Linked DNA regions of Homo sapiens: region 1 is linked to region 2. A link means that fine-mapping ties the variant in region 2 to the expression of a gene that starts in the linked region. Tissue or cell type: whole blood. Region 2 holds a variant in brackets; the other region holds the start of a gene. All regions are shown on one strand. Distances are from middle to middle. Region 1 holds the start of LINC01819 (long intergenic non-protein coding RNA 1819). Region 2 overlaps LOC107985876.

Region 1 (11,935 bases), 23 kb after region 2:
TTTCAAGGAGTTTCTGCTCCGTGTCCTCCTCCTCTCCACCTCTTTCTCTGCTTTCATTTCGTCGGACTGGCTGCGCCCCTACCTTTCTCTCTGAATCCATCACACCCCTCCCTGACTCCTGCCAGGCCATGGCAGAATTGCTGTTCCCAGGAAGGGTAGGTAAACGCTGGAGACGCAGCAGACCTTTCCCCACAGTACCCTGGCTTGGTGTCCACCCCTCTGCCATGGATGGCAGGAGGGACAGCCCCCCTACCCTGGCCGTACCTTTGCTCAGCCAGCTTCCCTTCTCGGTGACTCCATTACTGAGGCCACAGCCCATCACCCAGCCATCCTTCCTGGGGGAGGTTGGCCAGGAATTTTTGTACATTTATAAGTTTGTATTGTCTGAGGGGAAGCAGCCAAAAAAGAAAAGTTTTATCAGAGAATTGGACTTGGCTTTCCCTCAAAAGCCAATGGGGTTTCTGAGGAACGGATTTGAGGGGACACTAAGGCCTGGGGGGCAGGAAGGGCCTGGGAGTTCTGTGTCTCCCTTTAACTGGGGGCTCCCTGAGGAAGGGGCTGTGTTCCCACCTCAGAATGGGGGCTCTTTGAGGCCACAGCCATGTCCCTCAGTCTGAGCTGCTTGAGAGTCGGAGCCCTGCCTCTGCCCCGACTGGAGTGTGATGATCAGATGCCCCGCCCCACCCCTCAGGTCGAAGCAGGCACTGGGATCCCAAGGTGGTCCAAGGATGTTGCAGGGACCAGTGTTCCTTGGCCAAGGTTCTTTTAGTCCAAGATTCATCTCCCCGCCCCCAAACGCTCTCCTTTGCTCCCAGGTCTCCCAGAGTCTCTTGGGCCTTTGCTTTGGAGACTTCCTGCAAATTCCACAGCCTGGCCCCGGCCCCGGCCCTCTGGCCTGATCAGCCCAGGTTCTCCGGTCCGGCCACTCCTCTAGACCTTATTCTGTTTTTGTTTTTTGTTTGTTTGTTTGTTTTGTTTTGTTTTTAGACAGAGTCTTGCTGTGTCACCCAGGCTGGAGTGCAGTGGCACAATCTCGGCTCACTGCAACCTCCGCTTCCCCGGTTCAAGCAATTCTCCTGCCTCAGCCTCCCAAGCAGCTGGGATTACAAGCGTGTGCCACCACGCCCGGCTAATTTTTGTATTTTTAGAAGAGACAGGGTTTTGCCATGTAGGCCAGGCTGGTCTCGAACTCCTGACCTCAGGTGATCCACCTGCCTCGGCCTCCCAAAGTGCTGGGATTACAAGCATGAGCCACCGCGACTGGCCTAGCCCTGCTTATTCTCAAATTTCCTCCCCATCCCCCTACACACCGGTTGGTTTCTACCTCTAGCCTTTTCTTATGCCATCCCCTGGGCCTGAAGCACGCTTTCCATTTCTGCACTTAGCAGTTTTTATCATCGTTTCTGGCCCAAAACAAAGTCCTCCACCTCCCAGCAGCCTGCCCTGACTGCCCTACCCCATGCCAGCCTCACCTCTCTCCTCCCTCCCCGGAGTTCCCCTCAGAGCCATGCACCCATCACTTTATGGGGTCTGACACTTCCATGCTCAGTCCCATGCAACACACAAGCTGCTGGAGGAGGGGCAGGGGCAGAATGATGGATGAGGCTGCAGCGGCTTTGCTCCCTGCCGGGGCTGTGGTTAGATCTCCCCTCCAAGAAGCCTGATATTTTCCAGGAATTTCCTGAGGGGAGGGGGCCAAGTACTCTGGAATGAAAGCCAGCTGTGGGGTTGAGGCCTGAGGGTGGGGAAGGGGGCTCTGGGCTTCCTGGCTGAGTCAGCGGACCATTCCTAGGTAATTTATGGGCTGAGTCAGAGCTGTGGCAGTGGGGCGAGGGGTGGGGTTGGGAGAGCTCCCTGGTCTCTAGGCAGTCTGTGGAGGGGAGGGCAAGAGGACTGGCTGGAAGTAAGTCTGGCTGAGTCCAACACAGACCCCCTCTCCCCATCAGCCTCCCCACTGCTTGGAGCCTGTAAAAGCAGCAGCCAAGAGACGGAACCGTGGGGGATGGATGCAAGCTGGCAAAAGGGGAGAAGCCCCTGGCAGGCACTGGGGGCTCCTGAAGACAGAGGGGCACGCTGGCAGGGAGGGGCTTGGGCCAGCCTCAGGGCTAATTTGAGGGTAAAGAGAACTGCTAATTCCAGCACCTCAGCCTGGGTGCCCCCTCCCGCCCTTTTGTAGCAGGCCTGGCCTGGGCTGAAAAGCAGATCTGGGTTCTAATCTCCCTTCTGCATGGACCTGCGGGTGACACAAGCTTGGTGCCTTCTCCTCTCTGAACTTCAAGTCCTTACTTGGACAAGATGGCCTGGCTCCTCCCAGCCCTGGATTTGGGGATGCTCCGATGCTGCCTGGGAGCCCAGTCTGATCATGGTGGCCTGGAAATCAAGGCTAAGCGAAAGGAAAGCCTGAAAGAGCTGCACTCTAAGCACCACAGCAGGACTTGCCCCTGAATGGAGATGGGGCTGGGGCAGGAAGGTGGCAGGGAGGGGCTGGGCCCTGTGACTGTCACCTCCAGGTTGGAGGAGTGGGGAGGGAAAGGCAGGGCAGGGTGCGTTATCACACACACACTCACCCACATACACTCAAGCACACACCACAGAGTCCAAGGAAAACCTGTTTCTGTCCTAGCACTGAGCCAGGGATCCCACACAAAGATGGGTCCTGGCCAAGCGCAGTGGTTCACGCCTGTAATCCCAGCACTTTGGGAGGCCAAGGTGGGAGGACAACTTGAAGTCAGGAGTTTGAGACCAGCCTGGCCGACATGGTGAAACCTTGTCTCTACTAAAAATACAAAAATTAGCCAGGCATGGCAGTGCATGCCTGTAATCCCAGCTACTCAGGAGGCTGAGTCAAAAGAATCGCTTGAACCCAGGAGGCGGACGTTGCAGTAAGCCAAGATTGAGCCACTGCACTCCAGCCTGGGTGACAGAGTGAGACTCCGTCTCACAAAAAAAAAAAAAAAAAAAGAAAAGAAAAAGAGAAAGAATGGGTCCTGATGAAGTTCCTAGGAGGCTCCCTCCTGCTGACAGAGCACAGCAGGAGTGTCCCCCTGGGCGATGGGGCCCAGCTTTCCCATGTCATTCATGGGCATCTGTTGCATCATGATATCTGTTGCAGAATCATCCCATAGTGGCTTCCAAGCAGGGCGTTGCAGCTGAGACTGGCCCTGGTCTCAGCATCTTCGGAGAGGCCCCAGATTGATAAGTGTCTTGTTCTGAGTCATGGCTCAAAGTCCCCATGACAGACAGGAATCCCTATCAGCATGGTAGATTTCATAAACCCCAAATTAGGGCATGAGATCTGAAAAAGAATCTGGGGGATTTGTGATAACATGTGAGGGCATACAAATAAGGACTCTTACTTGCTCAAGACTAACAAACTGCATGTCTTGACAAGAGTAGCCAAGATGAAATCAAATGTAGACAGGAGGGTTCTGAACACACGTGGGGTCACTGGTGTGGCTTGGCCCGGGACTACCCCTCTCCCCCTCATCACCCAAATCCACCAGAGCCTTCTAGAGGAAGCATTCTCCCCACTGGTGGCGTGGTGGGGCCAGGGCCTCGACAGGGACTGTTGTAATCATCCAGGTGGGAAATGACAGAGAGGTGGTGAGAGGCGGGTGGGCTCTGGAAGAAGTTGGAATCCTGCTGACAAGATGCTCCAGTGGTTTGGACATGGGTCTGAAAAACTCCAGGACGGCTATCCAAGGTTTCGGCCTCAGTGAATGAAGGGATGGGGTTGCCACTGACTGAGGAAGAGAATGTATTCTATTGCATATTTAATTAATTACTTTGATGTGAAAAGTCCAAATAACAACTATGTCTGGAACTGAGCAGGGCATCCGTGGGACCACCGCCCACAGGCACCCAGGGCTTATGGCACCACCCACCCCCGTCGTGGGAGGCCCCAGAGACCCCGGCAGAGAAAGAGGGAGGCTCACCCTCTTGCTGTGGTGTGTGTGGGAGGGGCAGTGTGAAAAGGTCTGGCCCACCTGAGTCCCCTGGGCTGGTAGGAGAACTGGGGCCGGGCAGGGGGTGGTGTTGGAACAGGAGGGGTGGTGTGTGAGCCTCTGTGGGCAAAGACCCACCGTGGCCCACAGAGGCTCTTTCTCCTCAGACCCGGTGTGCTGTTACCAGAGCCTTCTAGAGGAAGTGTTCTCCGAGCTGAGGGCGGCTCTTTGATTCTCCAGGCCACAAACCCCCGCAGCCCGGCCTGGCCAGAGGCGTGCCTGTGCATCCCGGCAAGTGAGCGCCCAGGGACTCTCGGCCAGAGAGGCTGTGAGGGTGGCTTTGTGAGGATGGCTTTGTGTGGCTGCACATTGCCCTTGGCCAAGCCCCGCTGCCAGGAGAGGCAGCTCGGCTGCCAAACCTCCTGAACCCAAGTTACCTGAGCAAGCAGCCCTATCCCCTCGCCTGCTTCTCACTGCCTCGCCTGCCTTGGGCCTGCCCGACCCAGGGGGTCACATGCCTTGTTCCCCATCAGTGGAGACCAGGGACAAGAAGACAGTTCTGTGGGAAGAGCCAGGAGGACCATTTGGGAAAATACAGGTTCCAGGTGTGTCTCCAGACCTTGAGAGTTGGTGTCTCCTGGGAAGAGGCCCTGATGAGATCTGGGGAGATTCGGATCTGATGAGATTCAGGAAGCCCTGGCCTCTCCGTACTTGAGGAGACGGGACACACAGGACAAGCTGCAGGCTGGTGAGCAGGTATGTTCTGCTTCTTTGAGGACAAGAGAACCCTGGATCCTTGAGGGCTCTCAAGGGGCATTTACAGGGTCTGAGCCTAAATCGAGGCATCAGGTCCCAGAGAGGGCGAGGGTGCGTGTGCTCAGACAACCCGAGGTCCCGCAGAGGCCACCAGAGCCCCCAAGGGGGGTCGGAGAGAGTCCACTTCCCGCCAGAGGTGCGATGTGGCCACATCACTGGGCACCTAGTCCTTCTTTCTGCCAGCCTCAGCCATATGATGAGCAACCAACGCCTAAAGCTTCCTGAGCTGGAGGCGGGGAGGCAGGACTGGGGAGATTGGAGCTGGAGTGGAGTGGGCCTGAGCTGGGGACGGTGGGGTTCCTGTGACCCCGCAGGGTGAATGCCTGAGCTGGTTGCTCTGGATATGTGACCTGCTCCTCCCTTCTGTAAACTCTTCACCCTGATCTGGAGAAGGTGATCCCCAAGGGCTAGGACCCACCCACCCAGAAATACACTAAATAAGTAAATGTGCTCTGTTCAGATTTTATCTAATCAGGATTCCAGAGCACAAGACAAATGGCCTCACGTCCGGCTGGGAGGTGTAATTCATTCTCCTGGGTGAGTCCAAAGCCTGGGGCAGAGTGGGGAGAGGAGGGGCGGGGTGATTTAGTGTAGTGGAACGTGCACTAAGGGTCTGGGAGGCCCTGAAGCTTGGAGTGCAGGGCCCAGCGCCAAGACCTCCAGAACAACCCAGCCTTCCTCGGGATCTGCCCAGGGATGGAAACGAACCCTAGTGTCCTTTCTTTCAGGGAGTCTATTTCTGGGACTTATTCCAGGGAATATACATAGGTGGTCATTCAAAGATTTAGCCACAAAGTTGTCCTTCACTGTGACTTCTAAGCCTGAAAAACCGGAAGCAACCTAAATGTCCAAAAATGGGGCATGGGTTAAATACATTGTGAAACATCCAGAAAACAAAACACAATTGAGCCTTTAAAAATGATGTAGAAGAGCATCTAATGACATAGAAATAAGCAGATAGCATAACGAACAGAATAATACAAAGCTGAGATGTATATAAAATAATCTGATTTTTAAATCATTGATTGGGCTGGGCGCAGTGGCTCATGCCTGTAATCCCAGTACTTTCGGAGGCCGAGGCAGGCAGATCACCTGAGGTAGGGAATTCGAGACCAGCCTGACCAATATGGAGAAACCTCATCTCTACTGAAAAATACAAAATTAGCCAGGCGTGGTGGCACATGCCTGTAATCCCAGCTACTCAGGAGGCTAAGGCAGGATAGTTGCTTGAACCCGGGAGGCGGAGGTTGCAGTGAGCCGAGATTGCACCATTGCACTCCAGCCTGGGCAATAGTGAAACTCCGTCTCAAAAAAATAAATAAATAAATAATAAAGCATTGATTTATGAAAAACGTTGGAAGGATATACAATAAAACATTGACGAGTGGTGAGCTAAGGGGTAATTTTAGATTGCTTCTTTTTCTTTGTTTTTATTTTGGTTTTCCTTATTTGAATTTTTAATTTTTTTAGCATAATCATGCACTTACACAATAGACAAATATAAGGAGAGCTATTACTTTACAAACCAGAATCTCCGAGATTTAGCTCAGGAAGAATTCCTGGGTAGGAGAGACAGCTGGCTCAGTCAGCCCTCACTCCACCTCCCTCTGTGCACTCTCCTCTTTGGGTCACTTTTCTTCATTCCCACGGCTTCTTTCTGGCTGGGCCCCAGGGATGCCACCACTTTTTTAATTCTGTGGGCCAAACATAGCTAGAAACCCAGCCTTGGTGGTTGTTTGAGACCGAGTCTCACTCTGTCACCCAGGCTGGAGTACAGTGGCGTGATCTCGGCTCACTGCAATCTCCACCTCCCAGGTTCAAACAATTCTTATGCTTCAGCCTCCTGAGTAGCTGGGATTACAGGTATGTGCCACGACACCAGGCTAATTTTTTGTATTTTTACTGGGTTGGCCAGGCTGGTCTTGAACTCCTGGCTTCAAGTGACCTGCCCATCTTGGCTTCCCAAAGTGCTGGGATTACAGGCGCGAGCCACCACACCTGGCCGAAACCCAGTCTTTCGCTTCTTTTAACAAGCACAGCTAAGAAACCTGGGAAGATCAGACCAGATGGCACTAATAAGGGCACTGAAGGGAAGGCAACAGGACGTAAACATGGTGCCCAGAAGAACTGTAAACCCAATCCAGCTTCCCAAGGCAGGGGTGTCCTAGTCCTACCTTAACCAGTTACCCTCTGGAGGCTCCCAACTCCTGTCCATCCTATGTGGAGGTTTATGAGGGGACAGAGACCCCACCAAGTCCTTTGTCCCATCATAATTTTTATCACCTTCTTTTCAGGTTCACCTTCTATTTTGAAGACCCGCTTCTTCCTCAGGTACCTGATCTTGAAAACGACCTCCCCTTTCAGGTAGGACCCACCATGACATATGGAGAGTGATCTAGCCCTTGGTCCAGGCTCCTGATAAAAAATATTCCAGCGCACCCCCAAGCCACAGCACTCATTTCAGAGAACTGGCACCTCACACACATAAAAGGCCTCTCAGGACCCAAGAAGCTCCCAGGCTCCAAGAGCAGATACATTGGCTTGGCAGCCCCAAGCTTTCCTTCACACCACTCCACCTGCCTCAGTGAAAAACAGACAAGTAATCAATGAATTATTTCCCCATTAAAATAAACTAATAGCATTAAAAACTGTAATCTAAATATAGGCTAATTGTAAAAAATATGGAAAATCTGAAAAAGTATAAGAAATAAAATGAAAATACTCCATAATAATCACACTAAATGGAGATAACCATTATTGCTATACACATACACATTTAAATGAAACTGAGGTAATACCATGTGCATACACACATAGTATATATAAAATCCTGATCTTTTTCCATATCAATTACATCATAAGAATTTTCTTGGGTCATTAAAATATTCTTTGAAAATACGATGTAAAATGGCTGCATAGTATCCTATTGTACGGTACAGTGGTTACTAAGCCAATTTCCTAGTGTTAGGCATGTGAACTGTTTCAAAATTGTTCATTATTTTAAATAATAATTTAATAAACATTCTTACACATACATCTTTGCATACATCTCTGATTATTTCTTTCTCTCTTTTTTTTTGGGCGGGGGGGATGGAGTTTCGCTCTTGTTGCCCAGGCTGGAGTGCAATGGCATGATCTCGGCTCACCACAACCTCTGCCTCCTGGGTTCAAGTGATTCTCCTGCCTCAGCCTCTCGAGTAGCTGGGATTACAGGCATGTGCCACCACACCCAGCTAATTTTGTATTTTTGGTAGAGACGGGGTTTCTCCATGTTGGTCAGGGTGGTCTTGAACTCCCGACCTCAGGTGATCTGCCCGCCTCAGCCTCCCAAAGTGCTGGGATTACAGGCGTGAGCCACCGTGCCCAGCCTCTGATTATTTCTTTAGGATAAAGTCCTAGAAGTGGGATTATGAAGTAAAAGGATGTGAATCCCTGCAAAGTTCTTGGTGTCTGGGAGCAATGTGTTTTTGATAAATTGTGTTACCGTAGTCCCCTCTTATCTTCAGGGGACATGGCCCAAGCCCCGCAGTGGGTGTCTGAAATTGTAGTTAGTATTGAACCCTGTATACACTATGTTTTTTCCTATACATACATACCTATGATAAAGTTTAATTTATAAATTAGGCACAGTAAAAGATTAACAACAATAATAAAATAGATCAATTATAACAATATGCTGCAAGAAAAGTAATGTGAGTATGGTCTTTCTCCATGTGTCTCAAAATGTTATATTGTAGATCCTAGCTACCTGAGCTAAGATCTGAGATCTAAAATCTTGATTTTTTTTTCCATATAAATTATATCATAAGAATTTTCCTGGGTCATTAAAATAGTCTTTGAAAATACAATTTTATTTGATTTATTTATGTATATTTTTTGAGACAGGGTCTCTCACTTTGTCACCCAGGCCGGCGTGCAGCAGGGCAATCGTGGTTCACTGCAACCTCGACCTCCCAGGGTCAAGTGATCCTCCAGCCTCAGCCCCACAAGTAGCTGGGACCACAGGTGTGCACCACCGTGCATGGCTAATTTTTGTGTTTTCTGTAGAGACGGGGGTTTCTCCCTGTAGCCCATGCTGGTCTTGAACTCCTGAGTTCCAGCGATCTGCCCACCTTGACCTCCCAAATTGCTGGGATTGCAGGTGTGAGCCACAATGCCCAGCCTGAAAATACAATTTTTAATGGCTGCATAGTATCTCATTGTTTGGCACAATATACACTTTTTTTCTTTCCTTATTAAGTCAAGAACTTCCACCTTTTAATTTAAAGGAAGCACTTCACGGCTTCTCTTTGGCACATCCAAATTTCCAGCATTGCTACTCTTGTGCTTTGGGGCCATTACAAGGTAAAACAAGGGTTACTTGAACACAAGCACCATGATACCTTGACAGATGGCCCCTAAGGGACACGCAGGTGGGTGGCAGCCACAGCATGGATACGCTGGAGAGAGGAATGATTCATGTCCCAGGTGGGACATCAGGGGATGGCCTGTTGGAGTAGGAGTCAGGAGGCCAGTGTGGCCAGAATGGAAACTTGACATCTATTCTTATGATTCTTTAAGGGAAGTGAACCCCACTGTGACAGCCTGGCCTAGGCCAGAAGGCAGCAGAATGGCAGAGGGCAGCTTCCACAGCTCCAACACCTGCTCAGGTGTTTATGGCAGTGAGGAGGGAGAGCATGTCCCAGAGCTGGGTTCCACTGTGCCGGGTGCTGAGAGTCCAGGGCTGACTAGGTCATGACTCTGCTTCTAAGTTGATTTTATAAATTCGGCACAGTAAGAGATGAACAACAACAATAATAAAATAGATCAATTATAACAATATGCTGCAATGAAAGTTATGTGAGCATAGTTTTTCTCTCTATGTCTCAAAATATTGTAGATCCTAGCTTCTAAGTTCAATTTATAAATTAGGCACACAATCCCATGGGGTCGACGGATGGACACTGTTAACAAGCATATGGCATGACAGATAGGGGAGGCTTCCTGGAGGAGGTGACATTTGAGTGGGGCATTGAGGGATGAACAGGTGAATTGGATTTCAACAGGCAGGGAATATATTAATACCTGTTTGCTGAGAAGAGCATAAGGGACCCATCGTTATTAGGGTGTGGACCCATGGCCTTGATCTGGGATTATCACTGGGAAGTAGAGAAAGCAGAGAGTGAGAAGAGGGTTCAGAAGAGGACCCTGGGCCACATGGCCATGTTGAAGGTGGGGTAAGAGGTGGGGCTGGAAAGTGCTGGAAGGGGGCTAAGGAGGAGCATCAAGGCATGAGGAACACCAGTGGAGTGGGCTGTCACAAGATTTAAGAACGACCAACGGAGAAAATATCACATATTGATGGGAGGCCAAGAGAGACAGGCTCTAAGGAGGGCCCAGGGCCGGCAAGCATTTGGTCCCGGGAGACCCTGGCAGGGGCCGGGCTGGTAAAGTGGACAGGATAGAGGTCGGGGGCATTTGATTCCTGCGGCTGTCATGGTAACAAACCACTTCAAACTGAGGGGCTTAAACAACACACATTATTCTCTTACAGTTCTGGAGGCCAGAAGCCCAAAATCAGTCTCGCTGGGCTAACGTGAAGGTGTCAGTCGGGCTGGTTCCTTCTGGAGGCTCCAGAAAAGAATCTGTTTTCTTGCCTTTTCTGGCTCAGTTTCTCGGCTTGTGGCTCCTTCCTCCATCTTCAAAGAGCACCACTCCAATCTGCTCCTCCATCAGGTCACCTTCTGCCTGACTCCTACATCCCTTTCAGAAGGACCCTTGTGATTCCATGAGGTCCACCCAGATCACGCAGGATAATGTCCCCGTCTCAAGAGGCTTAATCTAATCACAGGTGAAAGCCCTATACGAGGTGTCATGGACAGATTCTGGGCCTAAAGACATGAACATCTGTGGGGGCATCACTCAGACTTCCACGGGTGACAAGGGCCCCATGGTGGGAGGGGAGAAGAGGAGGAAACGGGAGAGTGAGGATTCACCAGGAGACTGGCCCGAGAAAGGAGACACGGATTGGACAGGCTCAGCCAGTGGAAGACCGTCCTGCCTGGAGGGAAGTGGCTTTTAGGAGTTTTTTCCTGAGCCTGTTGTGTCTCCTTCCCTCCTTTCTCCCCCAAATCCAACTAGAAAACTAGAAACATAATCTGTTGTGTTGACTCCATAGGTCTTGCTTCCCCTCAACCCAGACACCGACTCGCCCAAGGGTCTTCCAGCTGGCTGAGTTGGAACCTGCATTTTTTAACCACAAGGAAAAGAAGCCCAGAGCTACCAAGAATAATATTTTATTGACTTGGAATGAGTTTTGGAATCTGTATTTTTAACAAGCTGCCCAGGTGATTTTGATGATCAGACAGTTTGAGGTGGTTTTTTTTTTTTTCCTTTCCTCTTTCTCTTCCCTTCAGTAAACTGTTTTTCAACTTTGTTTTTCAGTGAAAACCATTTCCTCCTCGTCGTGGCGCAGGTCCAGAGGCTGCGCCCATCTCTCCCACGTCAACAGTCCTGTGTCCTTGGCGAAGGACTGTTCTCTCATTCAGTGCCTTTCCTCTCTTCCTGGGCCAAATCCCTGCTTTGCGTCTCCCTGCAGCTCATAAAAAGCTGAATTACCTGAGGCAGGGAAAGCCCCACCCACTGTCATTCTCAGGGAGGAGTGGAGTCTGCAGAGGCCGCAATGCACAGCTTCCCTATCCCCCTCCACCCGTGTTTTCCCAGAGCAGCTCTGTTCCAGGCCCGGGGGTGTCCCTGGGCCGAGATGGAATCCAGCCCTGACCACCTCCCAAAGCCAACAGCCCTGAGTGAGCGTGCAGAGAAGCAAGAGCTGTTCCTGATGCAGAGCAAAGACATCTCCCAGTCAAGGGGGATGAACTGATTTGGGACAAAAGGCAGTTGTTGGCTGAGGAAGGCAGGATCTGGGGGAGCCCTGTGCTGAGTGGAGGTGGGTGGGTGTATTTCCTTGGCTCACAGAGGCCTCTTGTCTGGTGGGATCAGCTCCTCCAGCCAGTTGCCACCTGGTCCAGCTTTGGGAGATGTGGAGAATGACTTTCGCAGTGATTTCCACTGGGCCATGGCATTGAAACAGCTGCAGGAGGGGACACAGCTGGTGCCACCCCTACTCCGTCCATTAGAGCTGCTGTGAAGGAATGCCACCCTCCCCATGGGGAGTGAGGGGGCCCTACTTGCTGTGG
Region 2 (11,935 bases):
CTTGGGAGGCTGAGGCAGGAGGATGGCTTGAACCTGGGAAGCGGAGGTTGCAGTGAGCCAAGATCATGCCACCGCACTCCAGCCTGGGCAATAGAGCGAGACTCTGTCTCAAAAAAGAAAAAAAAAAAAAAAAAGGAGGTGTCAGGAGCTGGAACGGGGTCAGAGGTGGCCTATCTGGGTTGGTGACACTGGAGCAAGACCTGAGTAATGTCAGGGTGTCCTCCCTCCAGGGCAGTGGCTGGGTCTGCAGGCAAGTTCCCACCAAAGCTGCCAGGTGGCTCTTCCTTCTGTCCTCAGGTCCCAGTCGCTGGGAGACGCCGAGACCCACTGAGGCCCGGTGGTGGCCCCCAGCTCACTGAGGGGCAATGGCCGGGAAGAGGTTGGCTGAAAGACTTGTGCTGCAGGAAAACTCCTCCTGTCCCTCATTTTGCTTCCCTTTTTCTCATCACTGTCAGGGGTTTTCTGACAATGATGACCTTTGAGCCACAAATAAACCACACAGCCACATGGGAGGGGTCCTGACCAGGGCCTGGTGGTCTGTGTCCCAGGGAGAAGTACAGCCCTCCTGTCTGCAGAGAAAGTGAGGACTTCTTTACATCAAGGTAATTGAGGGAGAAGGATTAGTGAGTTTTCTGAGCTCATAAATCACAAAACAACCCAGTGGTGTTGTGGGTGTCCAAATCAGGGGGGCAAGAAAGACAGAAAAGGGCAAAAAAAAAACCACAAACAAAAACACTCTGGTGGGGTCATGTTGGCTTTGGACAAAGCAAGAGAACCTGGGGCGTAGCCGAGGCGGGACTAAAGGAAACACCGTAAGACCCAGAGGTGCTGGGGCTGAGATTTAGGGCACTGAGGGAGTTTGAGAGCCAGCCAGCGGGCGCCATCACGAGTGTGTTGGGTATACGTGGTTTGTGTGTGGCATATGGGAGGATGGAGCAGGCCCGTGTGACCTTCCTCAACCTCTCCCGCCAGCTGGCTCCCCTGCCCTCAGTGCCCTACCTGGCAGAACCTGGTCCTGGCTGAACTACCACTGAGCTTATGTGACCCCTCATCCTGCCAAGCCAAGGTGGGGCTGGCCAGGTTTATGGGCCCAGACACCTTCACACCTGGACCTTTTCCCCTTGGGACTTTGAGAAGCAGACAAGTGCCACAATTCTGTGTGGGGCTAAAGGAAGAAATCCCCAGCTAGGTCCGGGAGACGGTGTGTTCCTCATGGCCCTGCCCCTCACTAACTGGGGGCCATAAGCGCACCATTTGCCCTCTCTGGGCCTCACTTTCCATACTTGGAGAATAGGAATGGTACTAATAATCGTCCCTCTTCACAGGGTTACAGTAAGGATAGATGAGACTGAGATGTAAAATGTATTCTGTCAGCCAGTGATCACATCTTGTTTGACCAATACATGTAAAATTTTGACCTATTACTCACACATATAATCGAAACAAAAGTTTATACTTATCTGTTATATTCTGTTGAATGCATTGATCTAGTCTATCCTGTTCTGTTTCTTTCTATTTTTTAAAAAATCACAGATCATAATGCACTGGGTCTTGAACTACAGTTTCAGAAACACTGTCATAAACCATGGAAGGGGATATAAAAGCATTTGTGGTTTCATCACCTAGAGAGCTTGCTGGAAGTGGGGCCTGGAGTAGCCTTGGGAGCTGCCACCCTAGGCACACCAATGGTGACCCCAGTGCCACTCATCACTGGCCTATGTGGGCCTGCTCCTCTGTGGTGGACTTGAACCTTACTGCTCCAGCCATCTCCCCTGCCTGCCTGTCAAGCCTCGCTGTTGACTGTAGTCATCTTCATGCCAAAGGCCAGACATAGCCTGCGAGACTTGGATGGGACCTCGAGGGTCATCTCATCTCTCACTTTATATAGGAGAAAACTGAGGCCCAGCCAAGGAAAGTGACTTATTCAAGGCTGCCCAGTGAATGGGTGGCAGAACCAGAACTAGAGTTCAGATGTCCCTCTGTCAGCCCAAGGCTTGTTTTCATTACGGCCTTGTTATCTGCCTGATTGCAAACCCAATCCCCCCTTCTCTCTATGTCTTGGGTTCGGGAACCACTCCTGGCCTGAGCAGAGCAGGAATAAAGCAGCAGGGCCAGTCTAAAGTCTGCACATACTAACCATGTGGCCAAAGGCAGGCCTGTTAATACTTCTAAGCCTCAGTCTCCTTCTCTATAGAGTGGGAATGATGTTTTCTGCTCTTCCTAACACACAGGGTTGCTTTGTAAATTAAATGAGATAATGTGCATCAAATAGGCTTTGAAAAACCTTTTAAATATGCTTAAAATGGAAGGGTTCTTGAGGGTTGGGGTATGGTTGAATAGGTGAAGCACAGGGGTTTTCTTAGGTGGGTGAAATTATTCTGTATGATATTGCAGGTAGATACCTGACACTATGTACTTGTCAAGACCTGTAGAAATGTATAGCACAAAGAGTACATTTTTACACAAAATAAAAGAATCATTTAGGAGATCAGAGGATACGAAGATGGAATGCAAAATGTGACAAAACTATTTAACTGGATTAAAAACATGTAAAACAACTTCACTGAAGTGGGGGAGGGGTGGGAGTTTTTGATCTAAGCAACTTTGGAAATGAGTGGAGTCTATAAGACTAAAGACTAAAGAAACTGTGCCTAAGCACTATACTCTAGTTGATAAAGTAGCTTCTCATGGAGTGTGGTTAACAATTCCAGTACCACTATACATGTGTATTGGAACTGAATGAGTAAGTCAATGGATAGTGGATGGTAACAGACAGGTTTCTCACTGTGGGAGTGGAAGGTTACAGACAGGCAAGGGGAGAAGGCTAGAATGATCCTTGTGATAATTTATTAGAGTTGTAATATTAGTATGAAATCAAGTTTAGATTGCACTCCATCCAGGGCAACAAGAGCGGAACTCCGTCTCAAAAAAAAAAAGGTACCTCTCCCTCTCCCTCCCCCTCCCCCTCCCCCTCTCCCTCTCCCTACGGTCTCCCTCTCCCTCTTTCCACGGTCTCCCTCTGATGCCGAGCCAAAGCTGGACTGTACTGCTGCCATCTCGGCTCACTGCAACCTCCCTGCCTGATTCTCCTGCCTCAGCCTGCTGAGTGCCTGCGATTGCAGGCGCGCGCCGCCACGCCTGACTGGTTTTCGTATTTTTTTGGTGGAGACGGGGTTTCGCTGTGTTGGCTAGGCTGGTCTCCAGCTCCTAACCGCGAGTGATCCGCCAGCCTCGGCCTCCGGAGGTGCCGGGATTGCAGACGGTGTCTGGTTCACTCAGTGCTCAATGGTGCCCAGGCTGGAGTGCAGTGGCGTGATCTCGGCTCGCTACAACCTCCACCTCCCAGCCGCCTGCCTTGGCCTCCCAAAGTGCCCAGAGTGCAGCCTCTGCCCACCCCGTCTAGGAAGTGAGGAGCGTCTCTGCCTGGCCGCCCATCGTCTGGGATGTGAGGAGCCCCTCTGCCTGGCTGCCCAGTCTGGAAAGTGAGGAGCGTCTCTGCCCCGCCGCCATCCCACCTAGGAAGTGAGGAGTGCCTCTTCCTGGCCGCCATCCCATCTAGGAAGTGAGGAGCGTCTCTGCCCGGCCGCCCATCGTCTGAGATGTGGGGAGCGCCTTTGCCCCGCCGCCCCGTCTGGGATGTGAGGAGCGCCTCTGCCCGGCCGCGACCCCGTCTGGGAGGTGAGGAGCGTCTCTGCCCAGCTGCCTCGTCTGAGAAGGGAGGAGACCCTCCGCCCGGCAGCCGCCCCATCTGAGAAGTGAGGAGCCCCTCCGCCCGGCAGCCGCCCCGTCCGGGAGGGAGGTGGGGGTCAGCCCCCGCCAGGCCAGCCGCCCCGTCTGGGAGGGAGGTGGGGGGGTCAGCCCCCCGCCCGGCCAGCCACCCCGTCCGGGAGGTGAGGGGCGCCTCTGCCCGGCCGCCCCTACTGGGAAGTGAGGAGCCCCTCTGCCCGGCCACCACCCCGTCTGGGAGGTGTGCCCAACAGCCCATTGAGAACGGGCCATGATGACAATGGTGGTTTTGTGGAATAGAAAGCGGGGAAAGGTGGGGAAAAGATTGAGAAATCGGATGGTTGCCGTGTCTGTGTGGAAAGGAGTAGACATGGGAGACTTTTCATTTTGTTCTGTACTAAGAAAAATTCTTCTGCCTTGGGATCCTGTTGATCTGTGACCTTACCCCCAACCCTGTGCTCTCTGAAACATGTGCTGTGTCCACTCAGAGTTAAATGGATTAAGGGCGGTGCAAGATGTGCTTTGTTAAACAGATGCTTGAAGGCAGCATGCTCGTTAAGAGTCATCACCACTCCCTAATCTCAAGTACCCAGGGACACAAACACTGTGGAAGGCCGCTGGGTCCTCTGCCTAGGAAAACCAGAGACCTTTGTTCACTTGTTTATCTGCTGACATTCCCTCCACTATTGTCCTATGACCCTGCCAAGTCCCCCTCTGTGAGAAACACCCAAGAATGATCAATAAAAAAAAAAAAAAGTAAAAAAAAAAAAAAAAAAGAAATCAAGTTTAATATAGATACAGATAGTGACATATAGGAATATTTATATGTTTGTGTATATCTGTTGTGATATACATACAGGTTAGTAGATACACATGTATTTCTATGCTCTGTCAGCTAAGAGGGCCTAGAAGTAATGACAGCCCAGTAGCTGTGAGCACACTTAGTGCTCAGATTTTGGCTTCTAATATCATTCTCCAATTTTAAAAACCCCCACAAAAACCAGGGCTTCTTGTAAAAATGGCTGATTCTAGGATTGGAACAGGAAATGTACAAGATGAACCTGGAACATCTTGTAGTGCCAGAAAGTAAGGAAGATCTGAGGAAGAAATGATGGGAGTATGTCAAAGGGACACAGGAGACAACTGGTAGAGCTCCAGTGGCTAAAGCTGGAACAAAGTGAGCAATAAAATAAATACAGTAGTATTGGATAATTACCCAAAGTAGAAGAGAAATATCCCGGCTCACGCCTGTAATCCCAGCACTTTGGGAGGCCAAGGCAGGCAGATCATGAGGTCAGGAGTTCAAGACCATCCTGGCTAACATGGTGAAACCCCATCTCTACTAAAAATACAAACAACTAGCCAGGTGTGGTGGCAGGCACCTGTAGTCCCAGCTACTCAGGAGGCTGAGGCAGGATAATCACTTGAACCCAGGAGGCAGAGGTTGCAGTGAGCCGAGATCATGCCACCGCACTCCAGCCTGGGCAACAGAGCAAGACTCCATCTAAAAAAAAAGAGAAATATCCATGAGTTTGAACTTATATAAATAAATGGCTACATAGAGAAAAGGGGGAGAAGATACAAAAATACAGAATTGCAGATGATATTCACAGATACTCAAGGATGAGCATAGCTCCCTGCTCCTTAAATGTGGGCTCCACATAGCAACTTACCTCCAAACAGTATACACGGAAAGGGGAAGAAAGAATAACTTCATAGTGGAGAAACCTGACAAACACTACTTCTGTTAACTGTGAACGCAGTTGACATCGACAGTGACAGGTCATGGTGGTGGCATATACTCTTGATAGGATGTAATGAAAGTGGCACTTCACCTTTGAGGTCTTGCTCCCTCAAACCCATAACCTAAAACATCAGACAAATCCCAGCTGAGGAACATTCTACAAAATACCTGACCAATACTCCTTGAAATCATCAAGATCATCAAAAACAAGAAAAGTCTGAGAAACTGTCACAGCCAAGGGAGACCTAAGAAGACATGATGGCCAAATGTAATGCTGCATCCTAGAACAGAAAAAGGATATTAGGTTAAAAAAAAAAACAACTAAGGAAATCTGAATAAAGTATGAACATAGTTTAATAATAATGTTAATCTTGTAGGGCTGATATCAATAGCAGTTTATTAATTGTGGCAAATGTACCGTACTAAATGTAAGATGATGATAATAGGGGAAATTGGGTGTGGAGAATATGGGAACTCTCT[G/A]TATTATCTTTGCCATTTTTCTTTAAAACTTTTCTAAAGTAAAAATTTTATATCGAAAATTGAAAGCCTTACATTGGTAATTATTCACAGCTTATGGCTAAGACAGGTGGAATTGGGAGAATGCCCTGGGAAGGTTTCAAGGAAGTACAAGGGAGGATTTGGGGAACTGCTCAGGGGTGAGAAATACAGCTTGGGAGACAGGGCGGAGGGGAAGCTCGGTGCACATCCCAGACTGAGGAGGTGTCAGAGGGAAAGGGTCCTTGGGACAGGGTGTCTTGGGACCCTTTCCTGCCTGGGAGGGCTTCTGGAGGAGGAGGTGAGTGGATGGGGAGTGACAGCCTGGCTCTTTGCTCTCCTACCTTATCCTGACCCACCTTGCCACATCTCTGGGGCCAGCCCTGCTCCTTATCTGGAGGCAACCCATCAGAGGAGTTAAAGGGTCAACTCTGGAATTGGAAAAGCTGGCCACTCACCAGCATGTGACCTTGGATAAGGCTTACACCCTCTCTGAGCCTCAGAGTACTCATCTACAAAGAGTGGTGAAAAATCTGTGTCAGAGGGTTCTTGCAAAGGTAAGTTGAGATAATGCCCATGAGGGCCAACACCTGGTACATGCTGGGGACTTGGTGAGTGTTACAGTCAATTTATCTTCCCTTTAGTCTACCTTTGAGCAAGATCAAACAGCCACTTTGCCCTCATACCTGGAATCCAGCCCTTCCTCTGGATCCCACGCCCCATGTGGCAGTTTTAAAACCTGGCCCCCAAATTCCAACACTCTTTCCATCTAGAGATCAGCAATTTTTTTTTTTTTTTTTTTTTTTTTTTTTTTGCTTTTTTATTTTGAGACGGAGTTTCGCTCTTGTTGCCCAGGCTAGAGTGTAATGGCGCGATCTCTGCTCACTGCAACCTCCACCTCCCGGGTTCAAGTGATTCTTCTGCCTCAGCCTCCCAAGTAGCTGGGATTACAGGCATGCACCACCACGCCAGGCTAATTTTTGTATTTTTAGTAGAGACGGGGTTTCTCCATGTTGGTCAGGCTGGTCTTGAACTCCCAACTTCAGGTGATTCGCCCGACTCAGCCTTCCAAAGTGCTGGGATCACAGGCGTGAACCACCACGCCCGGCCTAGAGGTCAATTTTATATCCCCTCCTGTTGAATCTGGAATATGTGACTGCTTCACATAATAGAATATGGCAAAAGTGATGCTGCTGCCAGCTCTGGGCCTAGGCTTTCAGAAACTGTCATCTTCTACTTCCTGTCTCTTGGGGTTTTCACTCTTGGAATCCAGCCACGGTACTGAGAGGGAGGGTGAGCAGCCTGTGGAGAGGCCCATGTGGAGAGGAACGGAGGCCCCAGCTCTCAGCCCTGGCTGAGCTCCCAGCCAGCAGCCAGTTCTCGCTGACTGCCTGAATCATCTTACAAGTGGGCCCTCAAGTCCGCAGATGAGCTGCCCTAGCTACCACCTTGCAGAGAAGAAACGAACCTTCCCACCATGCCCTGCCCAAACTGTAGATTCAGGAGCGAAATTAGTCATTGATGATATTTTAGGCCATTAAGTTTTGGAGTTACAAAGCCATAGTAACCTGAACATCTGCTAACTGGGTCCAGGACTGTTACTATTGCTCCACCTCCTCCTCTTCCTCCTCTCCGCCGTGTGCTTGAGTTGTGATGTGGGTTGTGGTGTGGTGGTTTAGTGGGTGGGCACCGAGCCACACTACCTGGGCTCAAATCCTGACTCTCACATATCAATTGTATGACTCTAAGGAAGCAACGTAGTCTCTCTGTGCCTCAGTTACCGTGTCTGTAAAATGGGGGTGAAAGTAGTACAGAATTGTTGGGAAGATTAAATGAACTAAGCAACATAAAGCACGTAGAAAAGCACCGGGCATGTGTACAATTATTCTGCCAAGCCAAGGCCCCAGCCCTCTTGGGTTCTGGGGTGCTGACTCCCTGGGGCCTCCATCATTTGAGATGATCCCTACCTGGCCATTTGAGGCCCCAGACTTCCCAGGTGCCACCAGCCTACCTCCCCGGACTATCACTCTTCCTGCTGGTGTCAGGCTTTGCCCATTAGGCCAGTCTTGCTCACTCCCATGACACTTCTGGCTCTGCCCCCTGGTCCTTCCCTGCACTGCTATAATTCTGACTTCCTTTTGGCTGGGCTGTTGGGGAAAAAGAGAGAGTGGTGAAGCGGAGGTGGACCCCCGCCATAGAGGGTGGTGCACTGGTGGGTGTGTTGGGGGAGCTTTAGTTCATAAACTTTACTGGGAAACAGAAGCCTTATCATCCACACATCTCTTGGGAAGACATTGATTTTCTTGCTGACATGAGTCCAGAGAGTAAGAAACACACTCACAATATGAGCAAGGCCTGCCGTGGAAAGCCAGAGAATTTTCACTAAATCTTTCTTAGGAATTGCAATGATAGCACGCAGCAGATTCCTGAGGAAGGTGGCGTTGCGTGTTAATTAGGTTTTGCCAGAGAAAAATGAACGTGCTCTAAGACACTTTCCCACGTATGTGTTCGTGCAGGTTGTGAGAACTCAGAAAAGCTTTGCATCCAGGCTGTGCCCAGGACTCAGATTTCACTAGCTCCAGGGGTTCTCTTTTGCAGTGAACACAGTGGCCTCCTCATTAGAGCTTTTCAAACCAGGGTGGGCACTGAGGAAGGGATTGAAAGTCCCCTGGGGCAGAGGGACCTTTGAAATGGGGAGCCACTGCCCCAGCCTGAGAAGCAGAGAACAGTGACCTGGGGGGGCGTCCATGGGGGTAGCCTGAGTTCCGGAGCTTGGTGGTCCCGCAGCGCTACTTAAAGGTCACTGCACCATCTCCAGTGATTCCCTGAGTCTGCCCTGCGGCTTCCAATTCCCCCAGTGGGCCTGGAAGAACGACCCACTTCATGCTGGGAAAGCCATGCTGATGCTGTTGACCTGCAGGAATAGAATTTGGAACCGTATCCCTCCCTCCATCCCCTCACAGGAGACAGAAAGCAGGGAGGATTGAGAGGATCTGGGCACGCGGGGGTTGCTCAGGAAGCAGGAGGGGGCTGGCTGCAGGGAGAGAGCAGCAGGAGTTCACCTGGGAGAGGAAGTATGTGAAGCAGGCTTGCCGCAGCACCACCTGGCCACCTGATCCCCCGGTGGAGTCTCAGGAATCCCATTTCTGGAGGTATTCAGGCCATGTTGAGTGTGTGGGGAGTGTGAGGCGGAGAGAGCCCTGAGTCAGAATCCACACCATGACACTCACTGTGGTGATGACAGCAGGCACATTCCGATAGGGACAATATTGATCAGTTCAGTAGTTCCTGACCTGTCTGGCTGCAGAGTTGAATCTCCTAGAGCCTTAAAAAGAAAACAAAAAACGATGCTGGACCCCACTGCAGGCTGATGGAATCCAGTGGGAGCCTGACGCTGCCCGGGTGACTGATGGCCAGGCAGGACCGAGGACCGCGGGATTGCACTCGGTAGAGGACCCCCTCCCCTAGTGCCTTCGGCCGTCCCCACAGCCGTGCTGAGGTGAGCAACCAGGCTGCTGGGTGGAGGGAAGGAGATGCCCAGCCCCCTTGGGGCAGGATGGAGTTGGATGCCTCTCCAGCTGCCACTGGCCCCTGGCAGGGCTCAGAGGATGCCCCTGCATTAAGTGAGGACTCGGGCTTTCTGTCTCCCAGGACCCTCACGTCCCTCAGCCTCTGCTGCCTTTGGGGCACCTCTGTGGCCAGGGTGGCTGGGTGGCCTCCGTGTGCTCCCCAGCCCTGATTCCACCAGCCCTGTCAGCCTGGCACAGCCTGGGTCCCCTGCCAGGTCTGGTGTGCAGCTGGCGTGAGGCCTAGAATCTGTCAGCGGCTTCATTGAGATGCTGCCCCATCTCTGCCCTAGTTCAGGGTTTCAGAGCCTTAAGGCACACATCCCAGTCTTTTCCTGCTCCCTCTGTCACCCTGGAAACAGGTCTCAGTTTCTGGCGGCCCAGGGTGGATGGTGGGGTTGTCCCCATAGGGCAGGGTAGGGCATGGGTGGGGGGCAGTGCTGGCTGGCTGAGTTGGGACAGACCTAGCAGAACCAAGGCTTGGCAGGGTGTGGGGGCTGGGGAGGGCCAGGGCAGGCCCACGCTGAAGAAAGGGCCCTTTCTGAAGTTCACCGGCATAAAGGGAATTTTTTTTGTTGGTTTGTCTTCCCTGGTGAGGGTGCCTTCTTCTAATTTACACAAAAGTGTCATATGTGTCAATGGTGGCCAGGTGTGTGGAACCTGTCTCGGGTTCCCTGGGCATTTCCTGAGCCCAGAATCTCTCTCACACCCACCTGGTCAGTGATTTATCCATGGGAAAAACCTGGCAGCTTGTGGAGTTCTGGCAGCTTGTGGGGTTCGGCCCTTGAATCTCCTGTGGTGGGTGACTCTGGATGTGCCCAGCCCCACCTCCAAGATGAGGAGAGACAGGACCTTCTCCTCCCAGACTCCCAGCCAGCCACTCTCCCCTTACCAAGCCCAAGAGGGGAGGATAGTGGGTGGCTGTGTGGAACCTGTCTGGGGTTCTCTGGGCTTTCCCAAGCCCAGAATCCCTGTCACAGCCACCTGGGCAGTGATTTGTCCATGGGAAAAACCAGGTGAGGACTAGAAACCCTGCTTAGTTCTTGCCCTGACTCTCCTGGACTTTCTCCCCCAAAAACCTCCACTTACTTACGCACTCCCCACAGCTTCATGAGGTTTCAGGGGAGGTTGAAGACCATGCTCTGGATGTGAAGTCATTCGGCCTGGACTCTGGTCCCGGCTCAGCTGCTCCTGCATCCCCCCAGTTCCCAGGGCCCCCATTTGCCCATCTGGAGACAGGGCCTTGCCCTTCCCAGGCAGGACTGCAGGTGAGTGTGTGGACTGGCACCTGGCTGGCCCACTGGGGTCCCCTCAACTCTGAGTGGGGTACATCAGTGACTGCTGTGGGTGCCTGCCCAGGTCCCTTCACCAGCCCATGATGCAGATCCCAGCTGCTATGGGAGAGTTGGCTGCTGAGGCTCACTGCTGCCTGCTTCTCTGAAGAATTGTCCTGTCTGACCAGCTGGGAGATTATCCCCTCCCAGATGCCCATTCCCCAACTTCATCCCCATTCCCCAAAACCAATGTCTGACCCAGGGTAGCAGAGCTGGCCCCTTTGCCTTCAGGTGGGACGGACCAATCCCATGGTGCTCCCAAGCTCCTTGGGATCCAGCTGAAGCTAGAGGCCACATCTTTGCCTTGGTTTCTCCCTGGCCCCATCCCGCTTCCCTCACTGCCCTGCTCCTGAGAACACTCCCCAATAAACCACATTCACTGGGTCCCCTCCCAGGCTCTGCTTCTAGGACAGCAGGCACGACCTATAAGAACTCTAGGGCCCTGTGGCTCCAGGAGCACCTGACCCTGATCCGGCGATGAAGCAGATCAAGGCACGAGTTGTCCTTGGCTGCAGGAGCTCAGAGTGGGTGAGGGAAGTGTGGCAGCTCAGGAGCCTGAGCTAGGGGCATTGATCTGTGCAGGGGAGGCAGGCTGGAGGAGCAGCTATCCAGCCTCGCTCACCCTTCCCCCGGCCCCCACCCTGAGCCTGGCCCCTGGGAGGCACATGTTATTAGTCCTGTCTTACAGGGGTGGCCGCCGAGACCAGATAGTCACTAAGTCTCTAAACCGTAGGTGACCCAGTAAATTGAGTGCCTTTGCTGGATTCCAGTGCCTGTGTCTTGCTCATTGCCCCTGAGTAGTTGCACAGTGTCTGCCCTGGAGGCATTGGCAGAAGCCGGGCCCTTGGCAGGAAGGAACTGGGGGAAAACTGAGTACTGGGTCTCCCCTGGTGTGGGGAAAGGGCCTGACCGCGTTAGAATGGCTGGAGCAGCTGACCCGACCCATCTGGCGGGCAGCTGGATTGGGAAGTTGGGGAGCAAGCTTCCTGCAGAGCTTCTTTCCCTTTTCCTGCCAGGAGAAAGGGGTCTTACAACTTCCCATCCTCATGCTGACTCTACCCTTCCCTGAA

What was found. PIP is the estimated chance that this variant, and not a neighbour inherited with it, causes the effect.
Region 1: LINC01819 starts here. The variant in region 2 is fine-mapped to the expression of LINC01819 in whole blood (TOPMed, PIP 0.94).

Annotation. Positions count from the first base shown.
Region 1 is chr2:43,031,885-43,043,819 of GRCh38, reverse strand. LINC01819 (long intergenic non-protein coding RNA 1819) reads left to right here and starts at 4,277. Exons shown (of 6, transcript NR_110585.1): 1 at 4,277-4,700; 2 at 7,055-7,124; 3 at 8,668-8,765. RefSeq lists enhancers at 1-932, 1,576-1,870, 933-1,874, 1,875-2,817.
Region 2 is chr2:43,055,070-43,067,004 of GRCh38, reverse strand. It overlaps LOC107985876, which reads left to right. Exons shown (of 3, transcript XM_047446566.1): 3 at 1-2,960. Among named protein-coding and RNA genes, the nearest start is that of LINC01819, 21 kb to the right of the region's middle. The variant G/A (reference allele first, on the strand shown) is at 5,951.